2 linked regions of the Homo sapiens genome follow. The protein of the gene in region 1 purifies or fractionates together with the protein of each later gene. This does not show direct contact. Each region holds a gene or a part of one and is shown in the gene's direction. Other genes may lie near its edges.

The links. Proteins that work in one complex are often made in the same cells at the same time.
Region 2: the proteins of SMOC1 (region 1) and TRMU purify together in Homo sapiens (affinity purification with mass spectrometry; one large-scale study listed by BioGRID and IntAct). This does not show direct contact.

Annotation. Positions count from the first base shown.
Region 1 is NC_000014.9:70,028,890-70,033,236, forward strand, and holds the end of SMOC1 (SPARC-related modular calcium-binding protein 1 isoform 1 precursor), read left to right. Parts: intron 1-1,352; coding exon 1,353-1,369; 3' UTR 1,370-3,477; downstream 3,478-4,347. UniProt on the Homo sapiens protein: Plays essential roles in both eye and limb development. Probable regulator of osteoblast differentiation.
Region 2 is NC_000022.11:46,349,010-46,352,713, forward strand, and holds part of TRMU (mitochondrial tRNA-specific 2-thiouridylase 1), read left to right. Parts: intron 1-1,281; coding exon 1,282-1,454; intron 1,455-3,111; coding exon 3,112-3,165; intron 3,166-3,254; coding exon 3,255-3,321; intron 3,322-3,704. UniProt on the Homo sapiens protein: Catalyzes the 2-thiolation of uridine at the wobble position (U34) of mitochondrial tRNA(Lys), tRNA(Glu) and tRNA(Gln).

The DNA of each region.
Region 1 (4,347 bases):
ATAACCCAGGGGACATGGAGCTGTGGCTCACATGACCAGCGGGTGGGCTTGGGTTCTGCAGCGCTGTACACTCCTCAAAGCCCTTTCTCCTCCTCCATGAATTCAGTGGATCCTCAAGGCAATTCTGAGAGGGAGGCAGAGCAGAAGCCGTACAGCTGTGGTTCTAGCTCCCAGGCTGTAGACTGACCCAGAGAGGTTCAGGGGCATGCACAGAGTCACGTGGCCCTAAGCATCTCGGAGTGGTGGCGGGGGGCAGCTCTTGATGTGCTTGCCCCCAGCTCCTCGCTCCTCTTCAAGAGGCCAGGACCTGCTGGAGCAGGCGTGGCAGTTTCCACAATGGCTCAGCACCCTGTGGGGAGATGTGGGTGTCAGCAGAATGAGGCTGGGACTTTGTGTAAGTCGCCCCTCTGCTCTGAGCTGCTGCTGGATTCCTTCTACCTCTGACATTCTGTGACTCGGGGAACCAAGACCTGGGACAGTTCTGTCCAGGTACATCAGCACCAGAGCCCTTCTTAGTGGATAGCTGAGGGATTGCAAAGAGGTGCCCAGCAGGAGCCAGGCCTTATGGAAAAGGGACTTTGTGTGAAGGCGTTGGCCAGTAATAAGTTCACCTGAGCCATAGACACTCACAGAGCAAAAAGTAGGGCCAAACAACTTTTTGCTCTTTCCCAAGTCTGCTCTTTATTCTGAGGGTCAGAGAGGACAGAGACCCAGCATACGGAAGAAGGTGCCAGTTCTCTGGTCAAGGCCACTCAATGTCACATGTTCCTGGTTTGTTGCAGGTGGTAGCCTTGGCAGTTTCCCCCAGGCAAAATGAGCAGGCACAAACCCATTCAGTAAGTTGCCCCTTTCTGGGCTCCTCAGGGGTGAAGGGATTGGCCAGGTGACTTAAGCTCCCATTTTCAGGTTGTTTGCTGAGGACACGAGAGAACTATTGGGTCAGTGCCAATGGGATTCTGCCATCCCCACCTGTAAACAAACCCCTGTCGTTTCCACCCCAGCCCCAGGTTGAAAAGCTGGCATGTGAGAGTAGTGTGATCTGAACAGAGTGCACACCCTGCAACCCACACTTCCCTAGGCCAAGCCTCGTTCTCTCCAATGCCAGACTTATTTCAGTTGCAGTGGTGGTGCCTCATAGTGGCAAAGGACAGGCTGGTAAAACATGCTCATCTGCAAGTCCAGGCAACCTGTGCCCCACCTAGCCTCATAGAGGACAGCAGGTGGAAAAGGCTGCACTTGTGGGGAAATTGATGGACATAGCTGGATTTCTCACAAGCCCAACTCTAACTTCTTGCTTATATCTGCCCCCGACCTTTTTTTTTTTTTTTTTGCATTCTCCTTCCTTCTCTCAGTAGGACGCCTCGTCTAAGGAGCAGAAAACCCAAGGGCAGGTGGAGAGTCCAGGGAGGCAGGATGGATCACCAGACACCTAACCTTCAGCGTTGCCCATGGCCCTGCCACATCCCGTGTAACATAAGTGGTGCCCACCATGTTTGCACTTTTAATAACTCTTACTTGCGTGTTTTGTTTTTGGTTTCATTTTAAAACACCAATATCTAATACCACAGTGGGAAAAGGAAAGGGAAGAAAGACTTTATTCTCTCTCTTATTGTAAGTTTTTGGATCTGCTACTGACAACTTTTAGAGGGTTTTGGGGGGGTGGGGGAGGGTGTTGTTGGGGCTGAGAAGAAAGAGATTTATATGCTGTATATAAATATATATGTAAATTGTATAGTTCTTTTGTACAGGCATTGGCATTGCTGTTTGTTTATTTCTCTCCCTCTGCCTGCTGTGGGTGGTGGGCACTCTGGACACATAGTCCAGCTTTCTAAAATCCAGGACTCTATCCTGGGCCTACTAAACTTCTGTTTGGAGACTGACCCTTGTGTATAAAGACGGGAGTCCTGCAATTGTACTGCGGACTCCACGAGTTCTTTTCTGGTGGGAGGACTATATTGCCCCATGCCATTAGTTGTCAAAATTGATAAGTCACTTGGCTCTCGGCCTTGTCCAGGGAGGTTGGGCTAAGGAGAGATGGAAACTGCCCTGGGAGAGGAAGGGAGTCCAGATCCCATGAATAGCCCACACAGGTACCGGCTCTCAGAGGGTCCGTGCATTCCTGCTCTCCGGACCCCCAAAGGGCCCAGCATTGGTGGGTGCACCAGTATCTTAGTGACCCTCGGAGCAAATTATCCACAAAGGATTTGCATTACGTCACTCGAAACGTTTTCATCCATGCTTAGCATCTACTCTGTATAACGCATGAGAGGGGAGGCAAAGAAGAAAAAGACACACAGAAGGGCCTTTAAAAAAGTAGATATTTAATATCTAAGCAGGGGAGGGGACAGGACAGAAAGCCTGCACTGAGGGGTGCGGTGCCAACAGGGAAACTCTTCACCTCCCTGCAAACCTACCAGTGAGGCTCCCAGAGACGCAGCTGTCTCAGTGCCAGGGGCAGATTGGGTGTGACCTCTCCACTCCTCCATCTCCTGCTGTTGTCCTAGTGGCTATCACAGGCCTGGGTGGGTGGGTTGGGGGAGGTGTCAGTCACCTTGTTGGTAACACTAAAGTTGTTTTGTTGGTTTTTTAAAAACCCAATACTGAGGTTCTTCCTGTTCCCTCAAGTTTTCTTATGGGCTTCCAGGCTTTAAGCTAATTCCAGAAGTAAAACTGATCTTGGGTTTCCTATTCTGCCTCCCCTAGAAGGGCAGGGGTGATAACCCAGCTACAGGGAAATCCCGGCCCAGCTTTCCACAGGCATCACAGGCATCTTCCGCGGATTCTAGGGTGGGCTGCCCAGCCTTCTGGTCTGAGGCGCAGCTCCCTCTGCCCAGGTGCTGTGCCTATTCAAGTGGCCTTCAGGCAGAGCAGCAAGTGGCCCTTAGCGCCCCTTCCCATAAGCAGCTGTGGTGGCAGTGAGGGAGGTTGGGTAGCCCTGGACTGGTCCCCTCCTCAGATCACCCTTGCAAATCTGGCCTCATCTTGTATTCCAACCCGACATCCCTAAAAGTACCTCCACCCGTTCCGGGTCTGGAAGGCGTTGGCACCACAAGCACTGTCCCTGTGGGAGGAGCACAACCTTCTCGGGACAGGATCTGATGGGGTCTTGGGCTAAAGGAGGTCCCTGCTGTCCTGGAGAAAGTCCTAGAGGTTATCTCAGGAATGACTGGTGGCCCTGCCCCAACGTGGAAAGGTGGGAAGGAAGCCTTCTCCCATTAGCCCCAATGAGAGAACTCAACGTGCCGGAGCTGAGTGGGCCTTGCACGAGACACTGGCCCCACTTTCAGGCCTGGAGGAAGCATGCACACATGGAGACGGCGCCTGCCTGTAGATGTTTGGATCTTCGAGATCTCCCCAGGCATCTTGTCTCCCACAGGATCGTGTGTGTAGGTGGTGTTGTGTGGTTTTCCTTTGTGAAGGAGAGAGGGAAACTATTTGTAGCTTGTTTTATAAAAAATAAAAAATGGGTAAATCTTGGCGGCTGTTGCCTCTTTCTTTGGGTGGCTTCCTTTAATGAAAAGGCTTTATTTCCTAGAAAGCTTAGTTCGTTTCCCTGGCCTGGGTGCTCTCCACTTCCATCCAAGGACATCTGAGGTGCTGCCAATGATGAACCTAGCAGGGGACCCGGAAGTGGCCAGTGTGGTACTGCACCTAGAGAGGGGACTCCCTTGCTAAAGGTGTTTGTGCACTCTCTGTAATTCTTCCTCTTACCTCCACCCACATGTCTGCCCCACGGGATGCCCCTCCCTGACTGCCATTCCCTTCCTCTCACTGGAATGTAGGGAATGTTGCTGGCAGAGCTTTGGGGGCAGGGCTTGGGGAAGAGCCTATTCCATGGCTTCAGGCTGTTGAAAGTGGGTACATTGCCATCATCCAGATGACAAGACGCCAGGCTGAAATGTAGCCATAGGTGGGGAGCAGACCCCCAGTGGAGTTTTTCAGCCTGTACCCCAGTTTTGTGGGGTATCTATTCTGGCTGAGGCTGCAGGTCTGGTTTGCAGAGCTGGAGAACTCCCAGACGAGGATTGGCAGCAGGGGTGGAGATTCTAGGTTTTCTCCAGCGTGACCGGCCTCTTTGCCTTTTTCCCTGTGTGCACACACAGCTGTCCCTGGAAATGACCGCCTCAGCCATCCCCTTGGGAACCTTCTCCAGATTCCTTGTGCCACACTCTGCCCCCTTGTCTTTGCAGGTGAACAGAAGATAATTCCCCTTGTAAACCTCTCCTCCAGCCTTTGCTCCAGCTAGGCTTTCTTGCGACAGGGTCTAAGCCCCGGAATTTGATCACGCAGGCCACTCCTTGTCCAGGGCTTGTCCTTCCTTGCAGCTCAGAAGAGAGGACAGGTGGT
Region 2 (3,704 bases), on another chromosome or scaffold:
ATGCCTGTAGTCCCAGGTACTCTGGAGGCTGAGACAGGAGAATCACTTGAACCCAGGAGGCGGAGATTGCCGTGAGCCGAGATGTGCCACTGCACTCCAGCCTGGGCGACAGAGCGAGACTCCATCTCAAAAAAAAAAAAAAAAGTGGACTCTGGAAAGTGCTCTGCTTCCGTGGCGACTGGTCGGCTGAACTTGGTCTCACTTGTCACTCAGTTCTGCTGTTTGTACCTGCCAAGTAAGGGAGGGGGACTCGGGAGGCTGGGCAGCCTCCAGCCCCACCGCCTCCACCTGCATCACTTTGGGCGAGTCATATGTGATGAACTGGGCCGGCTCCAGTCTCCCCTCTGTAACGTGGGGAGAATTCTCCCTCTCACGGCTAACGTGGGAATCGGCAGATGGAAAACACTAGCTACGCAGAGTGTGTACTGTACACGTGGCTCTGCCAAGCCAGGAAGGGTAGGTGTGCTGTCTGACCGTCACGGCATGTGGCGTGCTCTGAGTGTAACTCGAAAGGAGAAGTTTATGAGAAAGATTGAAAGAAGCCAGAAAACTGACGTTCGTCTTAGTTTTTTGCCATTGATCATTGAACTCGAGAGTGGAGAACTGGACGGTTCTAAGCCAGGTTTACTCACACCTCTGCTCCGTTGCCTTAAAGCCAGAAATGGTTCTTTACAATCACATAGGGAATGTCGGAGGAACTGCAGGGTCACCTAACAGATGTCAGCTGAGACTCTCAACAAAAAAACGTTTTTACCAAGAAAGCTAATGCCTTCACAGGTAGGGCGCTGCTGGAGGCATGTGCTGGCCGCCGGGCAGTGAACCTGGAAAGTGTAGAGTCCTTGAAACCACTGTGGCACGAACACATCCTGTGGTTGTTGGAAGAAGGCACAGCTGACACTATATCAGTGGAATTTTCTGCCAGCAACTAGCTTACTCCATTTTCCAAGATTTGGCTGAATTTATTTTAGGTGTTTTTTTTTTTTTTTCTTATCACTTGAGAACATTTTTTCATGTGATGTTTCATCTTTGAAAATATTATAATCTGAAGTATGAGCTGGAATAATTTCTTTGTCATGTAAAATCCTTGTTTTTTTTTTTGGAGGTGCGAATTTTTCTTACATTAACCCGTGGTGGTCTTTTCCCTAGTAGTTGCTATTGAGTGTTGATGTCTGCCTCTGACAGGCTAGGGGTAGTCTGTCTAAGTGAACAGAAGGACATTGTTGAAAGTGAAGTATCATTATTTTTATTCCTGCATCGTCTTTTGTTCTTTATTCTTGGCAGCGGTAAAACTCCTCCAGGCAGCTGACAGCTTTAAAGACCAGACCTTCTTTCTCAGCCAGGTTTCCCAGGATGCCCTGAGGAGAACCATCTTCCCTCTGGGGGGATTAACGAAAGAGTTTGTAAAGAAAATCGCTGCTGAGAATAGACTTCATCATGTGCTTCAGAAGAAAGAGGTACGAGTGAGCAGTTGCCTTTGATTAGTGCCTGTTTCCCTTTCCCGACTGCATGGCACGGAGCAGCTGGACCTGTGGGTCCCGCACCACTTCCCCTTCTCCAGGACCTAACATCAAAGGCGGGCCTTGGAGCAATAGATGGAGGAGTTTGCTGAGGCGCACGGTACAGGGCTCTGCTGACATCGGGAGCAGCCTATACGAGACTCCTTGCTTTTTTCCTCTCCTCTGCCCCTATGTGGTAGGCAGCTTTCCCCACAGCCTTAGCAGCTGGTGGGGTGCTCTTGGGATGGCCTGCCTGCCAGGTGAGTGCCAGGCAGTGTGATGCAGCCCCGAGACCCCTGGAGGGGCAGGTGCTGTGCCGCCGTCTGCACACTCATGTGCCCTGTCACCCGCTTGCCCGGCACAGACTCGTTCGGTGCCATCTGTTCGGGCGCTGTGCTGCTGGGCCGCGAGGAATTGGTGACGCGCACACAGTTCCATCTTCGCCTCCATGGAGCCCGCCCGCGAGTGGGGGACACAGGCAGGAGGCCAATCAGTGTAAACCTAGAAAATGTCTACGGAGGGAGGTGTAGGACCCTGGGTGGGAAGCACCAGTGGGGTCTGAGAGTAGGGAATGGAGATGCCAAAAACGGCCTCAAAAGAAGTCACATGGAACCTGAGACCTGAAGGAGGAGAGGATCCGGTGTCCCAGAGAGGGCTGGGAAAGTCCAGATGAGGGAACGGCAGTGCAAAGGCCTTGAGGCGAGGAGAAGCCAGGGAGCCGCTGTGGGGGTGCCTGCCTGTGGCCCCAGCTCCTCAGGAGGATCGAGCGCACCCAGGAGTTTGAGGACAGCCTGGGCAACACAGCGAAACTCGTCTCAAAAAGAGAGAACCCGGAGTGTTGGCGGAACTAGGATGAAGCCCGTGGGAGGGCCTTGGGGATGGAGGGCGAGGGCGCTGTGGGATGAGCCTCACCTCTTCAGGGGCCAGTGCGGTGGGAGCTGTTGCTCCTTCGTGTCTCTTCCTGGTAATGGAAACGGCCATACCTTTCATCAGAGCCATCTTCCCTGAAGAGCACGCCCACCGCCCGTCCTCCTCTCCTCTTGTTTTCCGTTTCCGGTGTCGCTCTGTGGTGGGAGCCGCAGGGATGGAAGGGCAGTCTTGAGAGACACAAACCAGAGTAAACGATGCAGCCCCTGATGGGGCCACGGTGGAGAGCGCACGCCACCCAGGCTCCCCAGCTAGGGCAGATGTGCTTGAGGAAGGCGCCTCTCTCCTCTGACTCCCCTGGAGCCCTCCCCTAAGGCCTTAGCTTCAGGCCTGGCTTTCCTGCTACCTGCCCCTTCTCTGGTCCCTGTCTCTCCCCCACTCCTCGCAGGACAGTGGCCTGAAGGACCTGACCGGGTTCTGCTTTCTTCCCCGGGGCAGCTGGTGTGAGGGTCTCCCGCGCAGGGTCAGACCCCGCGGGCCGAGACAATGAGGCGTTCTCTAAGGCTCTGGCATCGTGTGCGCCGGCTGTGACTGGCGGCCGAGGGTGCCGGTGGGCAGCCGGGCCCCTACCCTGGAAGCAAAGTGTGGGGTGAGGCCGGGAGGCCCCAGGGCCCGCTCAGGACGTCTGGGTACAGCTTGGGCCACCGCCACTTCTGCTCCTCTCACGGCTGCCGTCTTCTCATTTCAGAGCATGGGCATGTGTTTCATCGGGAAGAGGAATTTTGAACATTTCCTTCTTCAGGTGCGTGCTGCTCTTTGACACAAAGAGATGGGGCTGCGTGTCTGCCCTGGGCCTAGATCTCCGTCGGTAATGACATGTTTGTTTTCCAGTATCTGCAGCCTCGACCTGGTCACTTTATTTCCATAGAAGACAATAAGGTTCTGGGAACACATAAAGGTGAGGTGCAGACTCTGCCACTTGTCATCTGAAATGCCTAGAGCTGTGGCGTTTCAGCTCTGGGAGACTAGACCAGAGTTCCTGTCGTCCCTTCCACTTGGCTGGAGAATTGTAGAAGGCTCTGTGGGGCGGCCGGGGGCGGGCACGGCCTAGGGTGGAACAGTTGCCTTGATGGTGGCTGGGTGCACTTCCAGATGTGGCCTCAGCTGAGATGCTGGAGTTCATGAAAAGCGCGCCTCTGACTTGGAAGGACTATACTCTGTGAGTTACGTATCAAGTCCCTGTAAAAAGAATGATTTCCTTCCTGTGTAAGGAAAATGTTAAACTACACAAAACTCCACTCTGATTCAGGGAGTAAGGTGGACGTCCCGGCATGGTGTGAA